Regions from separate parts of the Homo sapiens genome. Here all the other regions are linked to region 1. The links come from fine-mapping of genetic effects on gene expression. A gene starts in region 1. Each other region holds a variant in brackets. All regions are shown on one strand. Distances are from middle to middle. Region 1 holds the start of TMEM59L (transmembrane protein 59 like). Region 2 overlaps CRTC1 (CREB regulated transcription coactivator 1). Region 3 overlaps CRTC1 (CREB regulated transcription coactivator 1).

Evidence for each region. PIP is the estimated chance that this variant, and not a neighbour inherited with it, causes the effect. A credible set is the group of variants that fine-mapping cannot tell apart.
Region 2: its variant is the best candidate, but not a certain one, in a credible set for the expression of TMEM59L in cerebellum (GTEx, PIP 0.57).
Region 3: its variant is the best candidate, but not a certain one, in a credible set for the expression of TMEM59L in cerebellar hemisphere (GTEx, PIP 0.52).

The regions. Positions count from the first base shown.
Region 1 is chr19:18,606,786-18,617,260 of GRCh38, forward strand. It overlaps TMEM59L (transmembrane protein 59 like), which reads left to right and starts at 6,085. Exons shown (of 8, transcript NM_012109.3): 1 at 6,085-6,344; 2 at 7,087-7,231; 3 at 7,319-7,410; 4 at 9,190-9,342; 5 at 10,215-10,317. The coding sequence starts at 6,174. CRLF1 (cytokine receptor like factor 1) reads right to left here and starts at 14. Exons shown (of 9, transcript NM_004750.5): 1 at 1-14. RefSeq lists enhancers at 1-54, 7,278-7,798.
Region 2 is chr19:18,700,561-18,711,035 of GRCh38, forward strand. All of the region lies in intron 1 of CRTC1 (CREB regulated transcription coactivator 1), which reads left to right. Among named protein-coding and RNA genes, the nearest start is that of CRTC1, 22 kb to the left of the region's middle. RefSeq lists enhancers at 1-353, 697-746, 9,250-10,244. The variant C/A (reference allele first, on the strand shown) is at 6,533.
Region 3 is chr19:18,713,590-18,724,064 of GRCh38, forward strand. All of the region lies in intron 1 of CRTC1 (CREB regulated transcription coactivator 1), which reads left to right. Among named protein-coding and RNA genes, the nearest start is that of CRTC1, 35 kb to the left of the region's middle. The variant C/T (reference allele first, on the strand shown) is at 2,576.

The DNA.
Region 1 (10,475 bases):
GCCGGAGCAAGTCTGAGCAGCCGAATTGACAAGGCGCTAATGCGCCGCTGGCCCCGCCCGGCCCCGCCCCCGGCCCGGCCCGGCCCCGGGGGGGCGGCGGGCCCCGCACCGGCCTCCCCGCCGCCCGCCCGCCCGCGGGCACCGCGCGCCCCGCCCGTCCCGCCTCCGCCCCACCGAGAACCGCGCGCGCCCTATCCCGCGGCCCAAAGCCCCCTAACTCAACCCCTACCGGCCCAGGACCTCCCTCTCCAACCCTGCCAGCTCCAGGCTTCCCACCCCCAGTCTGGGACCCGGCACCCCCAATCCCGTTTCCATAACCCTGCCCACTTCCCTGCACCCTCCTCTCAGCCCAGTGCCTCTTCAGTGGCCCCTTTGGTCCCCAACCCTGCCCCACTCCTCCATTCCCCCTTCCACGGCCCAATCTTCTGTCTCGGCCCCCACCCCAGCTCTGGCCCCGCCCCCCCCACCGAGCGGTCCTTGAGTCCCGCCTACCCCCATCTCCAGCCCCTCAGCCTTCCCAGGGGCCTAAAAGTCACCCCCAGCCCCACGCCCTCGGCGCGCGGGTTCCAGCCCTCCCACCTCATCCTGCCTCTTTTCGATTCTCCGCGAGTAGCCTCGGCCCCAGGCTTTGCTGGAAGAAAGGAGAAAAAGCAGGAAGGCACGGAGTCCCTCGCCTTCGCCCTGGCTGCGCTGTCCCCTTCGCGCGCGGGATGGGTTTGAGGTTGCTCTGGGCGCCCCGGGGGCCTCGGGAGGGAGCTCCTGCGTGGGCAGACGGGGAGATGTAGTCCCCTGTGGGAGCCGGGACCCAGGCCTGCGCGGGAACTGGGTCCCGCACCGCAGTAAGAGGGATTCCCAGGAGGAGAGCGGTAAGAAGCTCTTTCCCCGGGACCTATTCACACCCCGCCACGGAAAAATCCACTCAGCGGCCCGCGGGTGGGGTGCGCCACGCGGTGAGTAATCGCTTCGGCGGCCACCGCCCGCCGACTCCAGGTAACGCCGGCTGCCCGGAGCGACGCATAGTTTGTCTTCCTTCTTTTGCGCAAAGAGCCTTCTCCGTGTTATTATTTTTGGCCATTGCTCGAGTTTCGGGACCCCTCCCGGTCCGGGCGTCTCATCTCCCTCCTCCCGGTCCCCACCCGATGCGGGCGCCCAGGAATAAAGGGTTCCTGGCCTCCAAGGCTGCTGCGGATGGGGGTGCCTGAAATGAGAGTTGGGGGGTGCAATTACCCACTTTTGGTCGCAGCCCCGCCCCCAGCTGCAGCGCCCAGGGAAGGGAACGGCTCCAAGTCCCCTTTTCCAGGAGTCCCTTAGAGGCCTGGATTCTCTCTCCTGGTCCCCAACCAGCCAAGGGGGTAAAAGTGTCTGAGGGGGGCTCAGGAGCCCCCATTTGTCTGCCCAAGACTGAAGCCCCACCCTCTCCTACTTAAATCTCCAGTTCAGACTCCAGACTGTCAAAAAACAAGATTGGGGGATGGGAGCCTATAGGGGCCCAGGGCGCCCCTGCTCCATCTGAATTCTGGATGGAGAAGACAGACAAGGAGAGACGCTGCCATTTACTTCGGGAAACCAGGCCTTTTGTGCCTCAGTTTCTTCCTCTGCACAGTGGGCACCACCCAGTCTAGGAGCTTCTGTGGGAAGACGCAGGGCAGCAGAAGTCTCTACAATCCAAGCCCTTAGCACAGCACTGGAGGATATCCTGGAGCAGAGGTGACCCCCAGCCCTGCTTGTCCCCTCTGAAACATGGAGCCATAGTCCCACCTGCCAGGGGACCCAGAGGGTTAAGTGGAGGTGGCAGTCCTTGGCTGGAATTGAGTTTTTAGGATACTCACCACTACTCCCCCATGGCTCCTGTCTGCAGATGCTCTCTGTGTGGATAGAGACGCCTCACTCCCTCCTGGGAGGACTTCAGGCTTCTGGAGCAAAACCTTGATTTTTTCCTCCCTCCATTTCTGCTTCTCTTCCAGTCATTTTGGTTTTGGGAAAGGGCTCTCCCATCCATCCAGGTGCTCAGGCCAGAGACCTGGAAGCGCACGTGACAACTCTCTCCTTTGCTCATCCCTCATGTCCAATTCATCAGCAAATCCTGTTGGCTCTGATTCTAAAACACATCTCCATTCTGAGATGCTGACCCCTTTTTCCCACCCCATTCAGATCCAGGCCCCACGGTCTCCCTCAGGGATGCTTCCCGGCCTCCTCCAGGGCCTCCCTGATAACCCTTCTGCCTTTCTCGGCACACCAGGCAGAGGGAGCTTTTAAAAGAAGAAAAAGCAGATCTTTGTCCTGCCACCCTCTCGCCATCCTCTCCCCTCCTCTTCTTCCCTCTCCTCTTCCCCCTCCTCTCCCTCATTCCGCCCCAGCCACTGGAGCCCTGTTTCCCAAAACATACCAGGCTTGTTACTATAGAAGGGCCTCTGCGTGTTGGCTGTTCCCTCTGCTGGAATGCTGTTCCCCACATCTTCCCCAGTTGGCCCTTTCTCTTCCATCACTTCACAGGATTAGTGCCACCTCCTCAGAGAGGCCCTCCACCCTTCCCCCAGCACTCTCCCTCTCCTTCACTTTGTTTTATTGTTTTTGAAACACAACTCTTCCAACCATTTCATTTCTTGTGCAACTGATTTTCTTTAGACTGTGGGCAGCCTCAGCCCCTTTGGACCCCAGTGGTGGGCCCAGTGAGGGCTGAAAGCGAAGCACTCACTAAATATTTGTAAAAGTAAAGGATGGAGAACTCTTACTCCCTCCAAGTAGCAAGAAAACTCAGTCCTAGCAAGTCATGCTGCCTGGGGTCCTAGCCTGGCCCACACTCTGTGTCTTGCTGTGTGACCCTAGCCAGTAGACATCCCTCTCTTGTTCTTACCAACAGAAGGGAAGGACCATTTTCCAATCCTGCCCAGCCCCACCCTGGAGTGTGACTTCTGCCCTTGGGTGATCTTTACCCCACACCTTTGACTTCAGGGAAAGGGAATTGACCCCAGAGTGCATCCTTCCCGGCCCTTAGGGCCCCCAGAAGTTTAACCCTTTACTCCCCAGTTCCATTATCTCCTTGAGGACAAAAGGGAGCTAGCGTCAATGGAACTTCTGGCAAATATTGACCCAAGTCCTTGAAGTTGGCTGGGAATGTGTAAGGGGCAGAAGGAGGGAGGGCCTCCCCTTGGGCAGAGGGAGGGCCTCCCCTTGGGCTGGGGGAGGGACCCCTCCTTAGTCCTGCACCCTCCACTCCAAGGTCACCTCTGGATGAGAGGTATTAGGTTGGGGGGGGGGCCTCCATCCCCAGCTCCCTCGTGATTCCAGGGCACTGAGGGTGCACCAGGGAGGGGGCAGTGGAAATGGCACCTTCAGGGTCCTGTGGGGACCCACAACCACTGGGAGTGAGGAAGGCTGAGAGCTGTCTCTCCCATTCTGAAAGCCCCGTGCTCAGGGCTCCCCAGTATGGGATTAGCTACCTGGTGTTCCAGGCAGGTGCTTTCAGGAATTAAGGGGCAGTGAGGGTCTGGACACCTGGTTCAGGGTCTGTGGCACAGGAAAGTGGGGCCCGTGTGTACCTAGGCTTTATAATTTCTGCCCTGGAGGCTGAGCCTGGGGAGAAGCAATGCCTGGGTGCTCAGTGTAATGCACACTGGACTTCAGGCACTGGAGGCGGGACCTGGGGAGTTGCAGACCTGCCTAGGGGACCTGCCTGGGAAGTTGCAGGCCTGCCCCAGGGAGGCCAGTTTCCCTGCCCGTCTGTACCCTGAGAAGCCTCTGAAGTCTGGGTCCCAGGAGGCACCAGCTGCTTTAGGGGGACAGCCACATCCCTCCGTCCTCCCCCAACAACCCTCAGCAACCACCACCGGCGCCATGGTGCTCTGCCTCCTCCCTGGCCTGTACCCTGCTTGGAGGTGGGGGTCAGCAGGGTCGTGGTGAGGGCGGCAAGGGACAAAGGGTGCTTGTCCGCTGCCCGCCTTGACCTCGGCTGCTGTGGCTTCCCGGACGCCTGGCCTGCCGCTGATTCACGCCCAGGCCGGCCTCAGCGCCCCCCGCCTGCCGCCCCCAGCCAGGCCGCCCCGGGGGGTAGGAAGTGGGGGGGGGGGCGAGGGCGGCGCCGAGTCAACTTTCCCTCTTAAGCCCCGAAGGAATGTCGGCGGATTTCCTGAAACCCGACCCTGGCCGCCCGCCGGCCCTCCCGCCCCTCACCTGGACCGGCTCCCCCGGGAACAGCAGGAGGGGCGCGGGGGCTCACCTTGGGGGCCGGGGTCAAGTCCTCTTTCCGCTCACCCCCCCAGCGGCCTAGTGCAGCGGAAAGGGGGCTGGGTGTGCGGCAATCAGCCTCTTTCCCTTCTCCCCTCAGGCGACCTGGGTGATCGACCCACTCCTCCAGCCTCAGTTTCTCCTTCTGCAAAAGGGCGCGGGGTGTCCCTCCTCCCTGATGCGTTTTAAGCAATGCCCAAAGGTCACCTCCCATCATTGGCAGGGCTCTGCCGGCTTTTCTTTGCTTCTCTCCCTGTCACCTGGACAGAACCACTTTGCAGTCTGAGCATCAGTTTCCTCACCCATATAAAAGGGCAACGCTACCGGTACCTGTCTTATACGGTTGTTGCAAGAAAAAGTGTTTCGTTGGAATGAATGAAAGACAGTAATTGTGGAGGGGTTAGGCGCGCGCGGGCCTCTGGAATTAGCATGTGTGGGCTTGAATCCTGACTTTGCCAACGCGTCCCGGAGCCTAAGTTTCCCACCTGTGAAATGGGGGACAGTATTGGTCATAACGCACAGGGCTGTTTCCCAAGGTGCGGGCCTGGCGCGCGGGTGGGTTAGAAGCGGAATTCTCCTGCTGGATTCTGGCGCAAACTGCGGGCTGGAGGCCCTCGCCGCCGGGTCGCAGCGGCCTAGCATGGGAGGGGAGGGGAGGGGCGGGGCGGGGCGGGGGAGGGGCCGCACCGGGATCCAGATGTTCGGGGTCCGCCAGGCACAGCCGCGCCTGATTAAGCCACGTGGGGGCCGGCCGGGGGCCGCTGAGATGAAAGCGCGGCCGCAGGCCAGAGTAGGGGGTGCGCCGGGCCCCCACCCGGGACACCCTCTTCCCAGGCCGAAACCTGAGCCGCCCTCTAACCCGCAGACCCTGCGAGGCTGCCGCCCCGTCTGCGGGGGCGGAGCGTAGGTGGGGGACCTGCGGGCTGCTGCGCGGCGCTGCAGGCACCTGCGCCAGGCATGCCAGCGAAAGCGGGGGCATCTTTGCAGAGGATCCGGGTTTAGAGGGGCGTCCCCACTCCCTTATCTGGCGGAGAGGAAGCTGGGGGTACCCTCTAACCGAGATTCGGCTCCTGGGGCTACAGTCCATCGCCCTGGGGTGTGATGGTTATGGAAGTCAGAAGTGTCGCTATTTGCCCCGTTTTCCCATGAGAATTAGACATGTCAGCATCACCCCCTCCCCTTGCTCCTGAGCATACCTCTGTGTCCCCTCCCACTAAGCCCCAGCCCAGGGGTCTCCAGCCTTGGGGAGACAGGGCCAGATTCCCTAGGTCAGTGGATCAGGGCTGGGCCAGAGGGAGGCGAGGCTGAAGGAGCAAGGGAGGGGCTCAGAGGGCTTCCCGGAGGAGGCAAACTGCGCGCAAGTTGTCTCCTTTCTAACCTGGGTGTCAAAAGAGAAGATGCCAGGACTCAGCTGCCGGGTCCTGCGGCTCTCACCTTCCTCCCTCTCCGTTCCCTGGTTGGACTCCAGCCCCATCGCCCTCCCTCCTCCTGCAACAAGCTCTTTCTCTCAGGATCCTCGCTGATCCTTGTAGCCTGGACACCCCTTTCTCCTCTCTCCCGCGTGGTCGGCTCACACGTCGCCTCCTCCGCCAAGCTCTCCGCTCTCCTCGACACCCCTGGGGAATAGTCCCCTCCATCCCATCCCCCTATATATTTCCTTTTGGCCCCAAGCGCCAGCAGAGATCCCCCGCCCGTGGGCACCAGGGAGGTGTCCTGGGACCCCCGCGATGGGATAGACGGTGGGGGCCGCGATGCACCTGCCCCGCCCGACCCGCACGCCTCGGGTGCCGCAGCGCAGCTACCCCGCCCGCTCTCCGCATCTCCCACCCCCCGCTTCCCAGGCTGCCTCGCTCGGGTGACGTCAGCGCCCCGGTCCCCGCCGCAGCCGCTGCATCCTCCGTGCCCGGCCTGAGCTGGAGTCCCCCGCGCCCCCCGCGTTCCGCCCGGCCATGGCTGCGGTGGCGCTGATGCCACCGCCGCTGCTGCTGCTGCTGCTGTTGGCGTCGCCGCCCGCCGCCTCCGCGCCGTCCGCCCGCGATCCCTTCGCCCCCCAGCTCGGGGACACGCAGAACTGCCAGCTGCGGTGCCGCGACCGCGACCTCGGCCCGCAGCCCTCGCAGGTGAGGCGCGTGCGGTGCCAGGTGCCAGCGGGGGACGCGGGATCTCTCCGAAGGAGGAGGCGTTGGGATGGGCTTCTCTTGGATGACAGCAGGAGACTTTGGTGGGGGTGTCCGTGGGGAGGTGGGGGTCGGGAATGGGGAGATCTCTCCAGTAGTTGACGGGCTGGGGTTCCCTCTGATGGGGGAGTGCTTGGGGATGCAGGTCCTTGCGATAAGGGGCCGATACCACCTCCCGGGCTCCTTCCGCACTCTGCTGGGTAAGGACCCTCTAGCACCCAACCCCCAGCTCCCTCAGGCCTGATGGTCCCCCCACCTCATTCCTCCTCCTCCACATCGTGTTCCCTCCCCACTCAGAGCTACCAGCCCCTACTCATACCACCACTCCCCAGGATTCAAGCCTGATCTGCGTGTGACCAAAACCCCCTCCTCTGAGCCTCCCCCTCCTCCTCCAGGTCTGAGAATCCTTCTCCATGTCTCCCCTCCTCCCTGGAACCTAGTGGGGGGAAGGCTCATTTCTCTCCACCTTCACTGTCCATTTCTCTTCTCAAGCTCCCTCCCCATCTCCCTCCTCAGAGCTAAGAGCCCCCACTAATATTTGTAGCCTCTCCCAACTTCATCTCCATCTGGCTAGATGTCGTGGGGAGCGGGGAAGCCTTTCCCTGCCTCTGCTGAATGCTCCGGTCCCCCCACCCTCCTCCTGCCCCTCCCCATGGCCTGAGCCCCCTGTCCTCCCCTCCCCCAGGCGGGGCTGGAGGGCGCCTCCGAGTCTCCCTATGACAGAGCCGTTCTGATCAGCGCTTGCGAGCGTGGCTGCCGCCTCTTCTCCATCTGCCGATTTGTGGCCAGAAGCTCCAAGCCCAATGCCACCCAAACTGAGTGTGAAGCAGGTGAGGGCCCGCCGGCAGGGTGGGCCAGCGTGGGGAGAGGTGGCCTGGGAAGGGCCGTCCCCAGTCACCCGCTCCCACCTCCCACAGCCTGCGTGGAAGCCTATGTGAAGGAGGCAGAGCAGCAGGCCTGTAGCCACGGCTGCTGGAGCCAGCCCGCGGAGCCTGAGCCGGAGCAGAAGGTGGGCCTCCCACTGCGGCCTGGGGTCCCTTTTCCCAATACCCCCACCCTCTTCACCCCGTGGGAAATCTTCATTCACGTGCAGAGGCTCTGCCAGACTCTGCGTTCTATACCAGGCCTGCAGGGCAACCTCCATCCAGCCCCGTCATGTCTCCAGCCTTAGTTACATGCAACAACGCCCCCCATGCCCCACCACCTTTTCAGGAATAAGTGGCAGAAAACAGCCATCATTTATCAAACATCTGTCCTGGTTCGGGCCTGACTTCAACCTGTCCCAAATGTTTTTGTGTCACTTGGAGGCACAAAGGACAATGTCACCCCCATTTAGTGCCCAGGGGGCAACCTCCCAGGTCATACACAGGGCTGTGCAAGGGGCGAGATTTGAAGCCACCAGAGCTGTGGCCACTCCTCACCTCACTCCTCTTAGGCGCCCCCAGAGCTGCCAGGTGCTGGTCTAAGCCCTTCCCCTGTGATGAGCTGGTGGTCACTGTCACCTGGAGGGGCTCAGAACTGCGGCTCAGGGTAGAGCAGGCTTGCCTCGCAAGCACGCACACACTGCCTTATGGGAGAAATAATAACGGTTCATCTATTGTAGTCCAAGCAATGCTGCATCATGGGGAAACTGAGGCACAGAAAATCATGTAGCATAGCCAGAGACCTAGGGGCTGGGACTCCCCAGAAAGCCCTTTCCCCACTTCCCCCATTTTCCTCCACCCCTTCCCAGCTTTCACTGCTGTTCAGAAAAGCTCACTGCACTGTCAGCCCTTCCAATTCAGAGCTCCCTCTTATTTATTTATTTATTTTTTGAGATGAAGTCTTGCTCTGTTGCCTAGCCTGGAGTGCAGTGGTACAATCTTGGCTCACTGCAGCCTCCGCCTCCCGGGTTCAAGTGGTTCTCCTGCCTCAGCCTCCTTTGTAGGTGAGATTACAGGCACCCCCCACTACAATCGGCTAATTTTTGTATTTTTAGGAGAGACAGGGTTTCATCATGTTGGCCAGGCTGATCTTGAACTCCTGACCTCAAGTGATCTTCCCACGTCGGCCTCCCAAAGTGCTGGGATTACAGGCATGAGCCACCATGGCCGGCCATCAGACCTCCGTCTTGACGCTGTCAAAATAAGAATAATGAGGATGATGATATTTTTAGTAATAGGGACTACTACGCATTAAGTGCCTGTGCCGTGCCAGGCACCTGGCAGGCATCCTCTAGTTGAAATTTCATGGCTACTCCATGAAGGAAGAGAACGATACCCATTTTAGGGCTCAGAGAGCACAATCCACTTCCCTAAGGGTACACAGGAAGCCAACTGCCACGCTGAGATCTGTGTTCACTATAAGAAGTCCTATTGGCCCAAATCACTTAGCCACATCCAATCCAAGTGAATTCTCCTAGCTCCTCTCCTGTTAGTTTATTTATTCATTTATTTATTTGAGATGGAGTCTCACTCTTTCACCCAGGCTAGAGTTCAGTGGTGTGATCTTGGCTCACTGCAACCTCTGCCTCCTGGGTTCAAGCAAATCTCCTGCCTCAGCCTCTGGAGTAGCTGAGATTCCAGGCGTGCGCCATCATGCCTGGCTAATTTTTGTATTTTTAGTAGAGACAGGGTTTCACGATGTTGTCCAGGCTGGTCTCAAACTTCTGGCCTCAAGTGATCGGCCTGCCTCAGCCTTCCAAAGTGTTGGGATTACAGGCGTGAGCCACCACATCCTGCCCCCTCCCATTCATTGGTTAATGCCCTATTTCGGTGCCATCTTTGTGTCTTGGACCTTTTTTCACCAGAGAAAGGTCCTGGAGGCTCCAAGTGGGGCCCTCTCCCTCTTGGACTTGTTTTCCACCCTCTGCAATGACCTTGTCAACTCAGCCCAGGGATTTGTCTCCTCCACCTGGACATACTACTTGCAGACTGACAATGGGAAAGTGGTGGTGTTTCAGGTGAGACCTCTGACAGGGGCCACGCCAGAGTGGCAGATGGGTGGGCAGGGTAAGAAGATGGGATGCATTGGCTCTTAGCTCATGAGATGCAAAGTCCACAGTGGGCGAGCTTCAGGCACAGCTGGATCCAGGGGCTCAGTGTCTCACTCCATGCCTTGACTCTGCTTTCTTTTGTGGTGGCTTCATTCCCAGGCATTTACTTCTTCTTGGCAGTAAGGTGGATGCCAGAGGCTCTAGGTTACAAACGCTGTGGTTTTTTTTTGTTGTTGTTGTTGTTGTTTTGAGATGGACTCCCATTCTTGTTGCCCAAGATGGAGTGCAATGGCATGATCTTAGCTCACTGCAACCTCCACCTCCCAGGTTCAAGTGATTCTCCTGCTTCAGCCTCCTGAGTAGCTGGGATTACAGGCGGCCACCACCACACCCACCTAATTTTTGTATTTTTAGTGGAGACGGGGTTTCGCCATGTTGGCCAGGCTGGTCTCGAACTCCTGACCTCAGGTGTTTCACCTGCCTCGGCCTCCCAAAGTGCTGGGATTACAGGCATGAGCCACTGCCCCGGCTCCCTCTGGGGTTTTAACTGAGCTGGGATTTACTCTGATTGGCCCTGGCTGGATCATATGACCATCTCTCAGGCAATTCACTGGCTTGGTCTGGATCATGTTCCTACTTCTGGAGCTAAAGGATGGGGTTAAGGCAAATGGAGGAGCCCATGAAAGCAGAAAACAACATCCCTGACATCAAGCCCACCCCTGATACCCAGGGGAACTGGGTATCAGCTGGGCGTGGGACATGGCAGTCACAGAGGGCCTGCCTGGGCCCAGGGGTGCTGTTCTCACAAGCCTCTCTGTGCTGTCTTGTTCCTGGCCCAGACTCAGCCCATAGTGGAGAGCCTCGGCTTCCAGGGGGGCCGTCTGCAGCGCGTGGAGGTGACCTGGCGAGGCTCCCACCCTGAAGCCCTGGAGGTGCACGTGGGTAAGGTGCAACCTAGACCAGTGTTCCTTCCATGGGTGGCCCCACTGCCACAAGGAGTCGGCCTGGCAAACAGACCTTCTAGGATCGGGATCTCCATCTCTCAAGTCCTGGGTTCCATGGCTCATCCCCCAGGTCTCCATGGTCTATTTCCCAGGGTT
Region 2 (10,475 bases), 94 kb after region 1:
AATTGAAAACAGAAACACCACAGCACTTCCCGTTTCCTCTGCATCTGGCACCACTCACCTGGGTGCAGAGGGTGGGTGGGTGCATGCCAGCTGGTCATTCGCCCGGAAATCTCTGGGAGGAAGTATCAGCACAGCCTAGCAGGGCGCCTGGGACTGGCTCTGTGGGCTGGCCGTCCCTCTGGCTGGGGACACGGGGAGGCCGAGCGTGTCCGCAAAGACACGCGAGCTGTCCACCTTTCTGGGCTGCAGGGGTCTGCAGAACCTCGGAACCTCGGAGGGGCTCTCTGTCTGCTTCAGCGTCTCTTTCTCAAGTGACTGAAAGCAGAGGCTCCCTGCTGCGTTACACCATTGAGTCCTTTCGCATCTGTGCGCATCCCGCTTCCATCGCTGCGGGGATCCCTTCGGTCCTCCCAGGCAGGCGAGATTGGTGGCTGTAATTAGGACAGGAGTGGCTCATTATATCATCACAGAATAAATGCACAGACCCTGGGGATGATTTATGGTCCCAACAGCCTATCTTTGCGCCCAGGCGGCCTCGGCCTCTGTTCGGCAAGGAGCCCGCTAATCCCTTCACTGCCGGCTCAGCCGGGGCAGAAGGAGGAGCCTGAAGGTCCACCATGGGGTGGAGGCTGCCTGCTCGCGGGCCCGCCCCCAGAGCCCGGGGCTCATCACGCTGCTCTATGCGCCTCTGTTGGCTCCTGCCAAACAGTCCCTCCCTTCTGTGCCTCAGTTTCCTGGCTGTAAAAAGGGGGTGCTCACAGAGCCCCCTTGAGGAGTCGTCACATGGATTAGATGATGCATCCACGCAAAGTGTCTGGCCCCGTGCCCGGCCCGTGGTGGGTGCACACCTTGAAAGATGCCTGCTTGGCCGAGGCCAGCTGTTGAGCTGCTACTTGGGGCAACAGTGAGAGCAGGATCGCACCTTGTTCACCTCTGTGCCTTGGCCCAGAATATGACAGCTGCCACTGTGTGGCTTATGGGTCATCTGTTTAGTTTCACCTGAGGGAGTATTCATTGCTGTTAACTGTTTCTTATGAGATAGGATTTTTGTTTTTTGTTTTTTGAGACAGAATCTCACTCTGTCACCCAGGCTGGAGTGCAATGGCGCCATCTCAGCTCACTGCAACGTCCACCTCCTGGGTTCAAGCGATTCTCCTACCTCAGCCTCCTGAGTAGCTGGGATTACAGGCGTGTGTCACCAGGCCCAGCTAATGTTTTTTATTTTTTTTGTATTTTTAGTAGAGACGGGGTTTCACCATGTTGGTCGGGCAGGTCTCCAACTCCTGATCTCAAATGATCCGCCCACCTTGGCCTCCCAAAGTGCTGGGATTATAGGCATGAGCCACCGCGCCCACCGTTTTGTTTTTTTTTTTTTTTTTTGAGACGGAGTTTCACTCTTGTTGCCCAGGCTGGAATACAGTGGTGCAATCTCGGCTCACCGCAACCTCCTCCTCCCGGGTTCAAGCAATTCTCCTGTCTCAGCCTCCCGAGTAGCTGGGATTATAGGCGTGTACCACCACACCCGGCTAATTTTGTATTGTTAATAGAGATGGGGTTTCTCCATGTTGGTCAGGCTGGTCTTGAACTCCCGACCTCAGGTGATTTGCCCGCCTCAGCCTCCCAAAGTGCTGGCATTACAGGCGTGAGCCACTGTGCCCAGCATTTTTTTTTTTTTTTGAGACAAGGTCTGGCTCTGTTGCCCAGGCTGGACTGCAGTGGTGTGATCTTGGCTCACTGTAGCCTCAATTTCCTGGGCTCAGGCAGTCCTCCTGCCTCAGCCGCCTGAGTAGCTGAGACCATAGGTGTGTACCACCACAGCTGGCTAATTTTTAGTATATATTTTTTGTAGAGACAGGAGTCTCCCTGTGTTGCCTACGCTGGTCTCAAACTCCTGGGCTCAAGTGATCCTCCTCCTGCCTGGGCCTCCCAAAGTGCTGGCTTGAGCCCCATACCTGGCTTCTTAGGGGATAGTCTTTTTTTTTTTTTTTTTGAGATGGATTTTCGCTCTTGTTGCTCAGGCTGGAGTGCAATGGCACAATCTTGCCTCACCGCAACCTCCACCTCCCGGGTTCAAGCGATTCTCCTGCCCTCAGCCTCCCGAGTAGCTGGGATTTCAGGTATGCGCCACCACACCCGGCTAATTTTGTATTTTTAGTAGAGGCAGGGTTTCTCCATGTTGGTCAGGCTGGTCTCGAATTCCCAACCTCAGGTGATCCACCTGCCTCGGCCCCCCAAAGTGCTGGGATTACACAGGAGATAGTCTCTTAGACTTTGTGAAAAGTTTTGGAGATAGTGCAGGGAATACCCATAACCCCCCACCTGTTTCCCACATTGTGAACATCACACGTGACCTGGTTGCGACGGCCGGGCTGGGACCTCCAGTTGTCACAGTTCTTTTTTTTTTGAGATGGAGTCTCGCTCTCGCTCTGTTGCCTCAATTTCCTGGGCTCAGGCAGTCCTCCTGCCTCAGCCTCCTGAATAGCTGAGACTCGGCTCACTGTAAGCTCCACCTCCTGGGTTCACGCCATTCTCCTGCCTCAGCCTCCCGAGTAGCTGGGACTACAGGCGCCTGCCACCACGCCCGGCTAATTTTTTTGTGTGTATTTTTAGTAGAGATGGGGTTTCACCTTGTTAGCCAGGACGGTCTCGGTCAGGATAGAGACGGGGTTTCACTGTGTTAGCCAGGATGGTCTCAATCTCCTGACCTCGTGATCTGCCCACCTTGGCCTCCCAAAGTGCTGGGATTACAGGCGTGAGCCACCGCTCCTGGCCCAGTTGTCACAATTCTATTAACTAGACTCCAGACTGTGTTTGGATTTCCCCGGATTGCTCCTTTAAGCACCTTCTCTGGACAGGGTTGTGTGTTGCATTTATTTACTTACGTATTTATTTATGCATTTATTTATTTATTTATTTATGATAGAGTCTTGTTCTGTCGCCTAGGCTGGAGTGCAGTGGCACGATCTCAGCTCACTGCAAGCAACCTCCACCTCCCAGGTTCAAGCGATTCTGGTGTCTTAGCCTCCCAAGTAGCTGAGATTATAGGCATGCACCACCATGCCCGGCTAATTTTTGCGTTTTTAGTAGAGATGGTGTTTCGCTGTGTTGACCAGGCTGGTCTTGAACTGCTGACCTCAGATGATTCGCTTGCCTTGGCCTCCCAAAGTGCTAGGATTATAGGTTTGAGCCACCGTGCCTGGCTAATTTTTGCATTTTTAGTAGAGATGGGGTTTCACTATGTTGGCCAGGCTGGTCTCGAACTCCTGACCCCAAGTTATCTGCCTGCCTTGGCCTCCCAAAATGCTGGGATTGCAGGCGAGAGCCACTGCGCCTGGCAACGTGTTGCATTTAGTCAAAGCATCTCCTTTGATTCCTCCAATCTGTGATGGTTCCTCAATGTCTCCTCATCATCCGTGACCTTCACTCTCTTGAGGAGAGCTGGTCAGGTGTTTTGTGGAATGTCCTTATTGTGGTCTTGTGGAGGTTTTCTGGCAATTGGACTGAGGTTGTGGGATTTTGGTGGGGATCCCACAGAAGTGAAGTGCTCGTTTTCTTTTTATATTTTTTCTTTTTTTATATTTAAAATAGGGATCTGCCTGTGTTGCCCAGGTTGGAGTGCAGTGCTCACTGCAGCCAGGAATTCCTGGGCTCAAGCAATCTTTCCACCTCAGCCTTTCAAGTAGCTGGGACTACACCATCATGCCTGGCTTTGTTTTAAAATTCTTTTGTAGAGACGGGGGTCTTGCCATGTTGCCCAGGCTCAAGTGATCCACCCTCCTTGGTCTCCCAAAGTGCTAGGATTACAGGCGTGAGTCACCATGCCCAGCCTTTTTCTTTTTTTTAAAGTTAGTAAAATACACATAACATGTGGCCAGATGCGGTAGCTCTTGTCTGTAAGCCCAGCACTTTGGGAGACTGAAGCAGGTGGATCACCTGAGGTGAGGAGTTCGAGACCAGTCTAGTCAACATGTTGAAACCCCGTCTCTATTAAAAATACAAAAATTAGCTGGGTGTGGTGGCAGGCGCCTGTAATCCCAGCTACTCGGGATGCTGAGGCAGGAGAATCGCTTGAACCCTGGAGGCAGAGGTTGCAGTGAGCCATGATCGCACCACTGCACTGCAGCCTGGGCAACAGAACAAGACCCTGTCTCAAAAACAAACCAAAAACAAAACAAATACACATAACGTGTAAGTTACTGTCTTAACCTTAAGTGTGCAGTTCAGTGGCATTTAGTAAGTATCCTCACATTGTTTTGCAATCATCACCACCATCTGTGTTCAGAGCTTTTGCATCTTCCCGCACAGAAACTCTGTCCCCATTAAACACTCACCCACCCACCCCCTACCCCCCAATCCCCAACCCCCACCCTCCTACTACCCTCCATTCCCTCCCAGCCCCTGGCAACCACCATCCTATTTTCCACCTCTATGAGTTTGACGACTCCAGGGACCTCATGTAAGGAGAATCATCCAGGATTTATCATTTTGTGTCTGGCTTATTTCACTGAGCATAATGTCCTCAAGGTTCGTCCACGTTGTAACGTGTCAGAACGTCCTTCCCCTCTAAGGCTGTTATTCCACTGTATGGATGGGACACATTTTGTTTATCCGTTCATCTGTTGATGGACATTTGGCTGGTTTCACCATTTGGCTATTGTGCGTAGTGCTGCTGTGAACATTGGTGTACATCTCTTTGAGTCCCTACTCATAATTTTTTTGGGTATATTCCCAGACATGGGATTGCTGGATCATGTGTAATTGTATGTTTAATTTTTTTTGAGACAGAGTTTTGCTCTACCACCCATGCTGGAGTGCAGTGGCGTGATCTCGGCTCACCACATCCTCTGCCTCCTGGGTTCAAGCGGTTCTGCCTCAGCCTCCCGAGTAGCTGGAATTACAGGCGCATGCCACCACACCTGGCTAATCTTTGTGTTTTTAATGGAGATGGGGGTTTCACCATGTTCGCCAGGCTGGTCTCGAACTCCTGACCTCAGATGATCCACCTGCCTTGGCCTCCCAAAGTGCTGGGATTACAGGCGTGAACCACCACGCCCAGCCAGCATGTTTAATTTTTTGAGGAACTGCCACACTGTTCTCTGTAGTGGCTATACCATTTTATGTTCCTACCAACAGTGTATAAGGATTTCAGTTTCTCCATATCCTCAATAACACTTGTTATTTTCTGATTTTTTGATAATAGCCATCCTAATGTCTACTAATATTTACTAATCCTAATATTTTTTTTTTGCAAAAAATGATATTTTGATAGGGATTGTGGTTTTGGTTTGCATTTCCCTAATGATTAGTGATGTTGAGCATCTTTTCATGTGCTTCTTGGCCATTTGTCTGTCTTTGGAGAAATGTTTATTCAAGTCCTGTGCCCTTTTCCTTTTCCTCTCTCTCTCTCTTTTTTTTTTTTTTTAATGCTTTTTAGTATATTCATACTTTATCTATTTTAAATTGGGTTGTTTTTCTTTTTGCACTTGGAGATCCTGTTTTCCCAGAGCTATTTGTTGAAAAGACCATCCTTTTCCCATTGAGTAGTTTGGCACCCTTGTTGAAAATCACTTGACCATATATGTGACAGTTTATTTCTGGGCTTTCTATTCTATTCCATTGGTCTTTTTTTTTTTTTTTTTTTTTTTTTTTTTTTTTTTTTTTTTAGACAGAGTCTTGCTCTGTCTCTCAGGCTGGAGTGCAGTGGTGCAATCTTGGCTCACTGCAACCTCCTCCTCCCGGGTTCAAAGCGATTCTCCTGCCTTAGCCTCTTGAGTAGCTGGGATTACAGGTGCCCATCACCACACTCAGCTAATTTTTGTATTTTTAGTAGAGATGGGGTTTCACCATGTTGGCCAGGCTAGTCTTGAACTCTTGACCTCAGATGATCCCCCCCGCCTTGGCCTCCCGAAGTGTTGGGATTATAGGCGTGAGCCACCACATCTGGCCCCATTGGTCTTTATGTTTCTCTTTATGCCAGTATCACACTCTTTTGATTACTGTAGCTTTGTAGTTAAGTTTTGAGATCAAGAAGTGTGAGTCTTCCAATTTTGTTATTCTTTTTCAATATTGTCTTGGCTATTTGAGGTTTTTTGAGATTCTGTATGGATTTTAGGGTGGATTTTTTTCTATTTCTGCGAAAAAGGATATTTTGATAGGGATTGTGGTTTTGGTTTGCATTTCCCTAATGATTAGTGCTGTTGAGCATCTTTTCATGTGCTTATTGGCCATTTGTCTTTGGAGAAATGTTTATTCAAGTCCTTTGCCCTTGTTTTTTAGCGCTTTTTAGTACATTCACATTTTGACTATTTTTAAATTGGGTTGTTTTTCTTTTTGTTGGTGGGTTGTAAGAGTTCTTTATATAGTCTACATATTGATCCCTTATCATCTATATGATTCGCAAATATTTTCTCTCATTCCGTGGGAATGGGGCCTTTTCACTCTGTTGATTACGTCTTTTGATGCACAAGTGTTTTTAATTTTGGCAGCATCCAATTTATGTATTTTTTCTTTTGTTGCCTGTGCTTTTGGTGTC[C/A]GATCCAAGAAATTATTGCCAACTCCAGTGTATGAAGCTTTTCCTCTGTTTTCTTCCAAGAGTTTTATAGTTTTAGTATATATAGTTTTAGCTTTTATGGTTTTAGTTATAGAGTTACAGTTTTAGTTTTTTACTTTTATAGTTTTAGCTTTAGATCTTTGATCCGTCTTGAGTTAATTTTTGTATATGGTGTTAGATCAGGGCACAGCTTCATTCTTTTGCATATGGAGATCTTGTTTTTCCAGAGCCGTTTTGTTGAAAAGACTGTCCCTTCCCCGTTGAATGGTTTGGCACCCTTGTTGAAAATCACTTGACCATATATGTGAGGGTTTATTTCTGGGCTTTTATTCTATTCCATTGGTCTTGATGTTTGTCTTTATGTCAGTACCACACTGTTTTGATTACTGTAGCTTTGTAGTTAAGTTTTGAAATAACAAAGTGTGAGTCCTCCAATTTTGTTATTTTTCAAGATTGTCTTGTCTATTTCAGATTCCTTGAGATCCCATATGGATTTTAGGGTGGATTTTTTTCTATTTCTTCAGGAAATGGTATTTTGGTAGGGATTGCATTGAATCTAGACTGTTTTGGGTAGTATTGCCACCTCTGAAATATTAAGTTGTGGCCGGGCACAGTGGTTCACGCCTGTAATCCCACCACTTTGGGAGGCCAAGGCAGGAGGATCACTTGAGCCCAGGAGTTCAAGACCAGGCAGAGCAACGTAGTCAGATCCTGTCTCTATTTAAAACAACAACAACAAAAAGAAGTCACACTCTCCTCCTCCCAGCTATGTGACCCTGGGCAAGCCCATAATTGGCCCCTGCCTCAGTTTCCCCATCTGTAAGATGTGCCATGAAGGGGGCTAACTCTGTCAATGCATGAACAGTCCTCAGGACTGTAGCTTGCACAGGTAGTGCTCCATGAAGGCAGCCATGTCTCCTGGGAGGGCTGCCTGGAGGAGGAGAGCTCTGCAGTGGGACATTAGGGGTGAGGTCCGAGTTGCCGGTGCAAGAGGTGGGTAGGGAAGGGAAGGCTCTTTGGGTGGAGGAGAAACAGCATATATGGGGCCCAGAGGCCTACAGGAGGCAGGGAAGGAGGAAGGAGAGAGGAGACCCAGATCTGGAAAGGCCCAAGAGCCAAGCTGGAGAGCTTGGACGTGATCCCACAGCCAGCTATGGGGTGGGGAGGGGTGACCCAGGATCAGCTTTGAGCTTTAAGAAAGGCTAGAGAAAAGGTGGTGGGGTTGGAGAGGAGAACAGGGAAGGGAGTTGTGGGTTCTGGAGGGGCTCAGGAACTGCAGAGGAGAGGTGAACCCAGGGTGCCCGAGAGAGGAACGGGGCCACCCCGGGTTTCTGGCTTCTGTATCAGCATCAGGAAGATCATGGCACTGTCTGCCAGGGCCAGGTGAATTGGGCACGTTGGCTGGGGGAATCGGGACCATGACGAGCCTGGTGAGGGGCTGCTGGGCTGGAGGAGTCTCCTGGGGCATCACAGGGAATGTTCTGGAAGCAGGGCTGGGGCGGCACTTGGGAGTTAGCTGACAGTAAGGAGTGACGTGAGAAACACAGAGGCCAAGTCCTCGGGGAGCCAAGTTTGAGAGGCAGACGGAGCGTGGGGACCGAGGTCAGGGCTCCTGTGGGGCCGGCCTGGCCCTTCCCTTCCCACCGCCGTTCGGGACCCTGTGGTATCTTCCGTGGGCACTGGCCCTGCTCCCAGCTGAGCGGTGCCCAGAAGCAGGAGGACCCTGGTTTCCTGCCCCTACTCAGCCACCCTGCCCACGCCGTGGCAAGCCCAGAGCTGTGCTCAGTTCAGGCAGCCGTGTGGCCACCCTGGTGACTCCTCCCTGCCGCTCCCTGCTGTCCTGTCCTCCGTGGGGTGCTGTCTCTAGGCCCGGGAGGAAGGCTGAGGGGAAGGCCTCATGGGTGCAGTGGGTAAATGTCCACCCGGTACCTCCTCTGAGCCCGCATGGTGCTCGGAGGTGCAGGGTCCCAGGGCTGTTTCTGGAGCAGCAGGTGCCAGGCATGGCATGGGAGGGGCCTTGTGGAGCCCAGAGTCGCAGGTGCACCTGGCAGTGGGCAGAGCAGCTGCAGAGGCTTGGTGTTGGCAGGGTGCACATGAGGAGGTGGTAGCCAAGGGGACAGGGCCTCCCAGCCTGGTGCCCGCAGCCTCCCTCACACAGGGACCACCTTTCCCCTCACCTGGCCCCTCATCCTCTGTCCTGATGTCCCCTCATGGTGCCTTTTTATGCCCACCTTGCCCCCACACGTAACCCTCAGGCAGTGGGAGAAGGGCTGCAGCAGGGGGGTGTGGCTCCTGGTGCAGGGGACAGGCCAGGTGGCAGGAGCCAGGACAGCTTCAGAGGGAGAAGCCTCCAGGCCCAAAATGGGGCCTAGACAGGAAGGAGGGAGCGGGCAGGTTAAGAAGGGCAGTATCTGCATGGGGCTGAGAGGGAGCAGAGAGGGCATCTGAGGGTGGCTGGGGGCTGTGTCTGAGCAAGGCCATGGATGGGAGTTGGGATGAGCCTCTGTACCTGCGGACACCCCTGCTGAGGTCCTCTGGGAAGCCGGCAGTGCACCTAGGACTCCACCTGGGGGAGATGGGTCCCGTCTGCCCTGGGCGGGCTTCCTCATGCTGGGACCCCAGCCTGGAACGCAGCCAGGATCAGGAGCCCTAAAGTTAGGACCTGAGGGCTCCGAGGGCTGAGGCCGGGGACAGCTGCCTGGCGTTCCCTGCCGTGGATGGGCTGCTGCTCCCATGTTGCCTGCCCTGCCCTGGCCCATCAGTCCTGCCTCCTCCAGCAGCGGTGACTTTGCCACAGGGAGGACAGCTCAGGTCACTCCTGGTTAAATCCTTCCAGCGGCTTCTCGTCCCACCCAGGATGGGGTCCCACAAAGCTCAGCTCTCTTGAGGCTCTGAGCCCAGCACCCGCCCCCCCACACTTCTTTGCCCACCCTGGCTTCCTTGGCGAGCCACTGTCATGGTCACTCTGTGACCCCAGGGCCTTTGTGCTCACGGGGCCTCCTGCCTGGAGTGCTCTTCCCAGCTCCAGCGTCACCTCCTTGGCCACCTTCCCCCCACCCCATTTCCAGCTTGTTTTCTGCACAGCCCCACTCACTCGGAAGTCTCCCACTTCCTTCCTCCATCTACCCACCCAGCTGCCCGGCCCATGCCCATCTGAGCCAGCACAGCTTGTCCTGGGCCAGCAAGGACTTGTGGCTTCCCCTGCTGTGGACTCCCCGTTCCTCGACGTCCCTCCCTGGCCTCCCGTCCTACTGCCTGGGGGCAGTGTCTGGCCAGCAGATCCTTCTTGAAAGGGACCATCCCTCTGGGTGAGCTGGACATGCAGGGTTTTCTGGGGCTGCTGGAGGGGGTGGGAGCCAGGAGCCAGTGTGAGTCGGCGGCCGGCCGGGCTCCTGGCTGTGTTGAGCTGTTCCCTCCCATGGGGGCTTTGGGTCAGAGGGTAGCGAGGGTCACACTCTCAGGCACCCTTGACTGTTTATTTTTTACATTTATTTTTTATTTATTATTTATTTATTTTTTGAGACAGAGTCTCACTCTTTCACCCAAGCTGGAGTGCAATGGCTTGATCTCGGCTCACTGCAACCTCCGCCTCCTGGGTTCAAGTGATTCTCCTGCCTCAGCCTCCCCAGTAGCTGGGATTACAGGCACCCGCCACTGTGCCCGGCTAATTTTTGTATTTTAGTAGAGATGGGGTTTGGGTTTTGCCATGTTGCCCAGGCTGGTCTCGAACTCCTGACCTCAAGCGATCCACAGCCTTGGCCTCCCAAAGTGCTGGGATTACAGGTGTGAACCACCGCGCCCGGCCTCACCCTTGACTGTTTAGGAAGCCCATGCCCAGGCTTGGCCAGTCACCCCTCTTTCTTCACCCTGTCCCACCCCACAGTGCCCCCTCCCCAGGGCTTTGTAGGCCTCCAGCTGATGGGGA
Region 3 (10,475 bases), 110 kb after region 1:
TACTGGGCCTGTTGTTGGGGTCTGTAGTGTTTCTGTATGGCTCTGCAGAGGCCAGGCTCACCGCCGGTTGGCCTTAGCTCAAGGTCCAGGTTCGTGTTGGCTGGGATTCCTGCCCAGGTCCATTTGGAATATTCCACTTGCGCGTGAAGCAAAGGCCCAAGTATATGAAGTGGCGTGCCCAGGCACAGAGCCCCTTTCTGTACACCCAGCTGCACGCGCGGGGAGGAGCTGACATCCCAAAAGGCCACGCAGAGGTGGGAGCTGGAGGACACAGCCCTGCAGTATCTGCTGGGGTGAGCCCTGCACCACTGGCAGCCCGCTCCCCAGCCTGGTGGGTAGGGCTGTTTTGGGAGGGCCTGCAAGTGTGGAAACCTACACTAAAAATAGCAGCCACATGCCTCCTGTGGGCGGCCCACGCTCACCTCTCCTGGCACCCTAGCGTGCCCGGAAGCAGCAGGGTGGGAGGGCACACCAGGCCCCACACAAGCCCATACTGTCCTTACACGTATGCATGAGGCTGGGTGAGCCATGCACACCCAAGGCCACCCTCCACAGCCCTGTATCCCATGCTAGGGTTTGGGGTGCCCCAGAAATCAGGAATCAGAATAGCTCCATTTGCAGGAAGACATCACAGCACACATGCAGCCATGATGCAGCTTCCCCAGTGGGTCCAGGCGGGCGCACTCCATCCACCTGCTATTCGGTTTGCAACAAAACTAACACTCTTTTTTTTTTTGAGACGGAGTCTTGCTCTGTCACCTAGGCTGGAGTACGGTGGTGTGATCTTGGCTCACTGCAACCTCCGCCTCCTGGGTTCAAGCAATTCTCCTGCCTCAGCCTCCTGAGTAGCTGGGATTACAGGTGTGCACCACCACGCCCAGCTAATTTTTGTATTTTTAGTAGAGAGCGGGTTTCACCATGTTGGCCAGGCTGGTCTCGAACTCCTGACCTCGTGATCCGCCTGCTTTGGCCTCCCAAAGTGCTGGGATTACAGGTGTGAGCCACCACACTCGGCCTAAAACTAATGCTCATTAAACAGACAAGGGCAGCTTCCCGTCCACTGGTCAGATGTGGCTACTGGCCAGCTTGTGCTGTGATCCCCAGAAAGGTCTCTCCAGAGCATTCTCATTTCAGCATGGCAGGTTAGGGATTGAGGTGTCGTTCTCACCCCCAAATGTTGATGACCCCCGGGGAACCTCCAACCCTGTGGCCACATCCTGCTGTCTGCACCCTGAATATTTGGGCCTATATGCTCCCTTGCCCTCCCTCAGCCCTTTGGAGGGCCTCTCCTGCCCCCACTGGGCTCTGGGGCCTGCAGTTCCCAGCCTGGGCTTCGGGAAGGATTTCCGTGCCTGTTCAGGGACCTTTCAAGCACAGTTTTTATTATTGTCCTGGGGCTGCCACTACAAATGACCACAAAATCTGGTGGTTTAAGAAACAGAAATGTATACTCTCCCAGCTCTGGAGGCCAGAAGTCCAAGATCAAGGTGTGGGCAAGGTTGACTATCTGTAGAAGCCTCTAGGGGCGGATCCCTCCTGCCTCTGGGGGCTCCCGGAGCTCCTTGGCTTGTAGCCGCATCACTCCAGTCTCTGCCTGTCTTCACATGGCCTGTGTGTCTGCATCTCTTTCCCCTTCTCCTCTCTTTTTTTTCATTTGAGACAGAGACTCGCTTTGCCACCCAGGCTGGAGTGCAGTGGTGCGATCTCGGCTCACTGCAACCTCCACCTCCCAGGTTCAAGCAATTCTCCTGCCTTAGTCTCCCAAGTAGCTGGGATTACAGGTGCACGACACCACGCCTGGCTAATACCCCTTCTCTTCTCTTCTAAAGGCCCTTGCCATTGGATTAGGGCCCACCCTACTCCAACATGACTTTAACTCAATTACAGCTGCAAATACCTTATTTCCAAGTAAGTTCCCATTCCAGGTGCCAGGGGTCAGGACTTGGACATACTTTTCTGGGAGTACGTCCCACAACAGAAAGTAAGTACTGTGGTGCAGGCCCCATGCCCAGCAGGGAGCTGCAGCCTCCCCTCAGCCACCTGTGGCCCCGGGGACGGGCCTGTCCTCCCCTCTTCCCCTGCTTCTCAGTGTGTGGACATCATGATGCTTTTGCTTTCGTCATTTGTGTGATTGCATCTTGGAACCAAGTGCTGTTTGCACGTGCAGGTGGGCTCCCAGGCAGGGGGTCTCTCTGAGTTGGCCTGTTTGGAGGTTTGTCCCAGCCAAGGGGCCCACCTGGCTGAACCCACCCTGCTCAGGGCTGCATCCTGTTTCCCTGTTGACTTTGCTGCAGCCCACGCTCCTTCCTGCCACTGCTTGTGGTTGGCTGCTGTTTGGAGCTGTCCCCGGCATTCCTGCACCCGAAGCCTGGGACAGGTGTACGCTTATGTGCTGGCAGCGGTTGGCGGGGGGGGTGTCGCCAAAGAGCGGGGATGCTGAGAATGGTCCCCTTGCTGGGCTGCAGGTGGGGAGGGATGCCTCCGGGATTCCCAGAGTCACTGGTGGCATGTGCCCCCCGCTGCCCTGCCCAGTGCCCCGCCCTGGGGACCCTGTAGTGAGTGCAGCAGCCACAGC[C/T]CACCCTTGTTGGGGGCTGTGGTCTTAGGGTGGGGACATCAGCCTGAGGGTCATTATTGGAGGTGGGGCCAGAATGTGGCTCCCGAATGACTCTTTTTTTTTTTTTGAGACGCAATCTTGCTCTGTCACCCAGGCTGGAGTGCAGTGGCACGATCTCAGCTCACTGCAGTCTCCACCTCCCAGGTTCAAGCAGTTCTCTGCCTCAGCCTCCCAAGTAGCTGGGATTACAGGCGTCTGCCACCACACCCAGCTAATTTTTGTATTTTTAGTAGAGATGGGGTTTCACCATGTTGGCCAGGCTGGTCTCAAACTCCTGACCTCATGATCCACCCACCTTGGCCTCCCAAAGTGCTGGGATTACAGGTGTGAGCAACTGTGCCTGGCCGGCTCCTGCATGACTCTTAGCCCAGGTGCAGCCCAGCAAGCATTAGCGTGTGGAGAGCCCAGCGGGCATTAGTGTGTGGAGAGGGCATGGCTAGTATAGGGGCTAGCGAGTAGAGCATGCTGTGTCGTCTTTCCTGTAGAGCTGGAGTGACCTGCTCAGGTGGGAAGTTTGGAGAGACTCCAGCTGAGTGGTTTGGGCGCTGCAGGGTTAACTTGAGACCCCAGTAGGAGGCTTCTGTATTTGTCCAGGCAAGAGAAGATGTGGCTTGGGCCAGAATGAGGACAGAAGAGGCGAGAGGGCAGAAGAGGTGCTGGGACATGGGGGAGCCAGGTGGGGCATGGGGGGTTCCTAAGGAAGGGACAGGTTTGGGCAGTTGTGAATGTGCTCGTGTGTGTGCAAGTGAGTGGGAGCTGGCGTGCAGGCAGGACAGGAGTGCAGGCAGGACAGGAGTGTGAGCATGTGTGTGTGCGTGTGAGCATATGTGCATGCACGTGCATGAATGTGTTTATGTGACTATGTGCATTGCTGTGAGTGTGCACACATGTGGCTGGGTGCATGTGTGTGAACACGTGTGATGTCTGTACAGCCTCCCTGGTGGGTGACTGGCGCTGGGCTGGAGACATGAGTTTGGGGAGCTTTGAGTGAGGGGTGATGGTGGCACTCCCAGGGTGGGGCTGAGAGGGGGCTGCTGGGCTTGGGAGTGGAGGGCCCAGGGGAAGTCTTTCCCCTAGCACCCTCTCCCAGGGTCTTCAGGCTGTGTGGGAGCCAGGACTGGGTCTGTCTCCTTGTGGCCTCTGTCCTTGGTGCAGTAATGACCACTGGGTAGTGGCCCTTGGGGTCAAGGGCATCCCTGGAGCCCTTGCCATAGATGCTGAGCTGGAGCAGGGCTGCCACCCCATACTGTTCAGGGGCCAGTCCCTCCCCTCTGGAGCTGATCACCCCAAACACTGTCCCCTCAGAAGGGTCGTAGTGCTCACTCACAGGAGCCTGTGTTTCTGCCTGTGTGTGGGGCACTGGGGCCCAGAGAGGCAGACACAGATGCGTGCAGCCACCAGCTTGGATGCAGGACCCCTGGGCTCAAACACTGCCTTCCAGTCTCAGCCTACAGTGAGTATGGGCGGGGCTGGAGGATGCAGCTCAGAGAGGAGGGTGCAGGGTTCCGGGGTGGGCCAAATGCCGGGTGGGAGCAGAGCAGGGCCGCAGGGACATGGGAGGGCCTCTCGCAGGACGGTTTCTCATGCCAGCCCTGGTCAAGGCAGCAGTGGTTTCCAGACACGGGGGTGCGTGTGTGAGGCAGGAACAGTACAAGCAGAGGGCCCCTGGGGAGAAGGCCTTTGACAGCAGGAAGAGGACCTGGCAGTAGGGACAGGAGTGAGGGAGAAGAAAAAGACAGCAGGGCCTGGGCAGCCCCGTCACGGGGCTGGCTTTGAATCTTACTTATCTATTGTTGAGGTGAACACCACATAACATAAGATTCACCATCTGAAAGTGAACAGTTCCATGGCGTTTGGCGCATTCACAGTATTGTGCAGGCATCACAGCTATCTAGTTCCAGAACATTCTCATCATCCAAAGGAGACCTTGTCCCCATTAGCAGTCCCTCCCCTCCTCTCCTCCCCAGCCCCTGGCAGTTACTAATCTGCTTCCTGTCTCTGTGGATTTGCCTGTTCTGAGCATTTCAGATCGATGGAATCTCACACCCTGTGGCCTTCTGTACCTGGCTTCTCTCACTCAGCATCACATGTTCAGTTTCATCCACATTGTAGCATGGGTCAGTGCTTCCTTCCTTTTTTGTTGTTCCTCTTGAGACAGGGTCTCACTCTGTCACCCAGGCTGGAGTGCAGTGGTACGATCACAGCTCACTGCAGCCTCCACCTCTTGGGCTCTGTCCAACCTCCCACCTCTGCCTCTCGAATAGCTGAAATTATTGGTGTGCACCACCATGCATGCCTGGCTAATTTTTTTTTTTTTTTTTTAGAAACAGGGTTTCACCATATTGGCCAGGCTGCTCTCAAACTCCTGGCCTCAAGGGATCTTCCCTCCTCCGCCTCCCAAAGTGCTGGGATTACAAGTGTGAGCCACCGTGCCCAGCCTTCATTCCTTTTCATGGCTGAATCTTATTCCACTGTATGGACAGACCAGTCTTATTCATTCATCCCTTGGCACACACGTGGGTTTTCCCACCTTTTGGCTGTTGTCCATTGTGCTGGTACACACACTCATGTATGATTGTCTTCATTTCGTGGGGGCATCCGTCCAGGAGTGGGATTGCTTGGTCATAACAGCAGCTCAGCATGTCACTTGTTGAGGAACCGCCATACAGATTGGGGGTTTATTTTAAATAGGATGGAAGCCTACTGGTGTGTTTAAAACGGGAGCATAACACGATTTGAACTGAATGAATAAAGAGAAGAAAATGAAGGAGTCTCGGCAGCCACTTGCAGAGGGAGCAGGGAGGCCTGGGAGGAGGTCACGTGGGTGTCTGGGTGCGAGATGACACGGGCTAGTACCAGGGAGGGGGCTGACGATGGGCCCTGGAAGTCGAGCTGCTGGGAAGTGATCATGGGAGTGATGAGGCAGGCAGAGGAAAGGGACACCTCCAGCCTCTGTCCCTGCTTCTTCTACCCTGGCGGGCGCAGCCTCCAACTAGTGACCCCTCCTCTGGGCTTGGTCCTTCCCTGCATCGTGTGTGTCTGCTGGGCACTCCAAATGTGGTGCCTGGCCCCGCTAGCCCAGAATGCGGCCTGAAGATGGTGAGACAGGCAAGGGCTAACCCCACCGGGTCCCCAGGGCCTGCAGCAGGTGCCACCTGGGGCCTGGCTAGGAGTTCAGGGGCCTGGGTGAAGCCTTTGGGACAGGGCTGTGAGGGCACTCAAGGGGTACCAGGTGGGCCCCGGCAGGCCCAGGATCTGGCCTTCCAAATCACAAAATGACTTTTGGTGTTATGTAACTCCATAGTCAAGCTATGTCTAAAAAATGGAGCATAAAAGCTATTTTGGGCCCATGGTAATGAGGGCATCTCGCCTTTGTCTTAGCCGTCCTGGGGGGAGGCAGCGTCGAAAGAGCTGCTCAGAGAGGCGGGTTCAGCCCAGACCCCAAGCAAGCCCTGTGTCAGCAGGCAGATGCCGTTTTCAAAAATCATTTGTTCCGCCTCGACCGGAGGTGGCTCCTGGCAGATCGCCCCGCGGTGCTCAGAATCCCAGAGGCCTGCGGGCGGCTGACCCGGGGCGAGCAGGGCTGGGCCTCCTCTGCCGTGTCTGGGATCTGACTTCCCTGAGGTTAGGTCCGGCACCTGTCAGAAACCAGGCCTGACATTTTCAAGATGGGCACAGGCCCGCTCCGGGAAGGCCCCAGGCCCGTCCATGTGGGCAGCGTCGGCGTCGGGCTTCTTGCCTGGGACCCAGGGGCCGCTCTTGGGGAGGGAGACCCTGTTTCAAGTGGCCAGCATCCCCGCCAGTGGTTTGCATTATTCAATTGGTGATAAGATTTAAAATTAAACTGCAAAGGATCTGTTCCCCCAGCTACAAATAGACGTGTGCTTGCACATTCCAGAACACAAGTGTGCACCAAGAGATGTGTTTTGAGTCAAGGTGGAGAAAAAGTGAGTTTTTTTGTTTTGTTTTGTTTTGTTTTTGAGATGGAGTCTCACTGTCTCCCAGGCTGAAGTGTAGTGACGCGATCTCGTGTCACTGCAACCTCTGCTTCCCTGGTTCAAGCAATTCTCCTGCCTCAGCCTCCCGAGTAGCTGGGATTACAGATGTGAGCCACCACACCTGACTAACTTTTGTATTTTCTTTCTTTCTTTCTTTTTCTTTTTTTTGAGACAGTCTCGCTCTGTCACCCAGGCTGGAGTGCAGTGGCATGATCTCGGCTCACTGCAAGCTCCGCCTTCCGGGTTCACGCCATTCTCCTGCCTCAGCCTCCCGAGTAACTGGGACTACAGTCGCCTGCCACCACGCCCGGCTAATTTTTAGTGTTTTTTTTTTTTTTTTTTTTTTAGCAGAGATGGGGTTTCACCATGTTAGTCAGGATGGTCTTGATCTCCTGACCTTGTGATCCGCCCGCCTCGGCCTCCCAGAGTGCTGGGATAACAGGCGTGAGCCACCACGCCCGGCCTAACTTTGGTACTTTCAGTAGAGACGGGGTTTCATCATGTTGGCCAGGCTGATCTCGAACTCCTGACCTCAAGAGATCCACCCACCTTGACCTCCCAAAGTACTGGGATTGCAGGTGTGAGCTGCTGCACCCGGCTGAGTTTTGGAATTCCCTCTCTTTCTCTCTGCTCATGTACACTATGTGCACGCATGCATGGGGCCCTCTCTGCCCGAGTACACTGCCTGCACACATGCGTGGGGCCTTAGTCCTTCCTTTCCTGTTGGTGGCTGTAACAAATGACCACAAACTGGGTATCTTAAAACAATAGAAATGTATTCAGTGCAGGTGTCGGCAGGGCTGGTGCCTGCAGGAGGCTCTAGGGGAGGATCCTTCCTGCCTCCTCCAGCTTCAGTGGCTCTAGGCGCTCTTTGCATCACTCCAGTCTCTGCCTTCATTGTCATGTGGACACCTCCTCTCACTGTGTCTCTTCTCATCTTCTGAGGATGCTAGTCATTGGATTTAAGGCATACCCTACTCCAGTTCAACCTCTGTTTTTTTTTTTTTTTTGAGACGGAGTCTCGCTCTGTCGTCCAGGCTGGAGGGCAGTGGCGCGATCTCGGCTCACTGCAAGCTCCGCCTCCTGGGTTCACGCCATTCTCCTGCCTCAGCCTCCCGAGTAGCTGGGACTTCAGGCGCCCGCCACCATGCCCGGCTAATTTTTTGTATTTTCGGTAGAGACGGGGTTTCACAGTGTTAGCCAGGATGGTCTCGATTTCCTGACCTTGTGATCCACCCACCTTGGCCTCCCAAAGTGCTGGGATTACAGGCATGAGCCACCACACCCGGCCTTTTTTTTTTTTTTTTTTTTTAAACAAGGTCTTGCTCTGTCGCCCAGGCTGGAGTGCAGAGGCACAATCATAGCTCACTTCAACCTCTGCCTCCTGGGGTCAAGCGATCCTCCCACCTCAGCCTCCTGAGTAGCTGGAACTACAGGCGTGATCCACCATGCCCAGCTAATTTTTGTATTTTTAGTAGAGACGGGGTCTTGCTATGTTGCCCAGGCTGGTTTCAAACTCCTGAGCTCAAGCAATCCACCTGCCTCAGTCTCCCAAAGTGTTGGGATTATAGGCGTGAGCCATGCACCTGGCCTCGACCTGCAAAGACTCTCTCCAAATACAGTCACATTCATAGATGGCGGGGTTAGGACATGGCTATGTGTTTCCAGGGGACACAGGCAACCCACAGCAGACATTCTGCCAAGTCCATCATCACTGGCCCTTACTGAGGTCCCCCAGCCTCCTCTGGGTCTGCCCAGGAGGTGCTGTGACGTACTTCACCCCATGATCCAGCACATGGGAGTACCTAGGTCACCGTGCAGCCGGGGTCTCAGCAGAGGCCGGAGTCTGCCCTGAGTCACCAGAGGCTGTGGGTTTTGGGGATATGCACCAGAGACCCCCACACCTATGCATCCGCTGACTAAGTTCCAGATGAGATTCATCCCAGCCTTGCTGCCATCCTGCCATGGGGAGCTTGCAGCCCTGAATGGGAGACGAGAAAACATGCCAAGCAGTTATCAACTTGTCTGGGGCCCCTTGGCTGGGGAGAGGAGACCTGGGGTGTGGACGCAGGCCACAGGCATGCCAGGTGCCTCCCAGCTGGCTTCAGAGATGCTGGGGGAGTGGATTGGAGAGTATCCCCCAGACATATGCGCCCATGTCCTAAGTCCTGGAACGTGTGACTCTGGCCTTATGTGGAAAAAAGGTCTTTGGGGGTGTGATGAAGTGAAAGACCTTGAGATGAGATCGTCTTGGATTTAGGATTGGCCCCGAATCCCATGACTGGTGTCCTTATTTAAAGAGGAGAAGACACAGGCACACAGCGAGAAGGCCACGTGATGAAGGAGGCAGAGACCAGAGTGATGCGGCCACAAGCCAAGGAGGCCAAGGACTGCTGACGGCCACCAGTTTTTGAATGGACATGATGTTCACATAACATGAAATTAAGCATTTTAGAGCATGCCGTGGTGGCGTGTAGCACACTCCCAGTGCTGTGCAACCTTCCCTTCTGTCTGCGCCCAGAACATTTCCATCTCCCCAGAGGGAGACCTCACCCCGCAGGTAGTCACTCCCCATTTCCACTCCCAGCCCCAGGCAACCACTAATCTGTCTCTGTGGCTTTGCCTATTCTGGATATTTCATATCAATGAAAATCTGACACCATGTGGCCTTTTATGTCTGGCTTCTGTCACTCAGCATCGTGTTTTCGAGGTTTGTCCATGCTGTAGCATGGATCAGTGCTACAGTCTTTTTTTTTTGAGACAGGGTCTTGCTCTCTTGCCCAGGCTGGAGTGCAGAGGTGCAATCTCGGCTCACTACATCCTCTGCCTCCTGGGTTCAAGCGATTCTTCTGCCTCAGCCTCCCAAGTACCTGGGATTACAGGCATGGGGCACCACTCCTGGCTAATTTTTGTATTTTTGGTAGAGATGGGGTTTCACCATGTTGGCCAGGCTGGTCTCAAACTCCTGACCTCAAGTGATCCACCTGCCACAGCCTCCCAAAGTGCTGGGATTACAGGCCTGAGCCACTGTAATTGCCCGGCCTACAATCATATTTTGTTGTACGGATGGACCACATTTTGTTTATCCATTTATTTGGTGGGTTTTGTCTTTCGGATGTTGTTAACCGTCCACCTACCGTTTGTAAGTTTGTTGACATCTTATCTCCAATCTCCCCATGGGGAGAGACGGAGACCTGTCTCTTCCCATCTGCCTTAGCATCCTTGCTTCTGAAGACAGCTCTCAGGAAGTAGCAGGGCGTGAGGAAGGGATGAAGGGTGGGTGTCTGTGTCACCACAGCCCAGAGGTGCGGAGCCACGTGGTGTCTCCATGCTGTGGCTTAAAGTGTTGGAAGTTTGTGGCCAAGGCCAGTTCACCGGGGACCCCAGGTCCAGTATGGGTTTCCTAACGGTGGGCTTGCGTCACATTAGATAAAAGACCTGAGAGAGAACTCTGGAGGGCAAGGGGGCATCTGGTTGGTATTTCTGCCTGATTGCCATTTGTCTGGGGCCTGGAGAGGGAGCCTTAGCTATGTGTTTCGATGTGGTCAGATGGCCTGTGGGCAACAGGGCAGTTGCCCTGCAGGGACACTGGTCTCAGATGGAGTGAGACAGCCCCTGCGTCGACCCACCTTGCTGCCTGTGCCAGCTCCACAGCAGCCTCGTCAGTGTGGGGCACATTGCACACGCCACCGTCATCTCAGTTGTCCCCGTGCGCTTGGAGCCTCCGGGAGGGAGGATGCACGTTGGCGTGTTAATGGCGATGGCATTCCACCGTCACCCCAGGCAGAAGCAGACACTGTATGCTGCACTTATGAGACATGTGAAACCTCCCTGCACAGAACAGAGCATCCCACATATGTGGT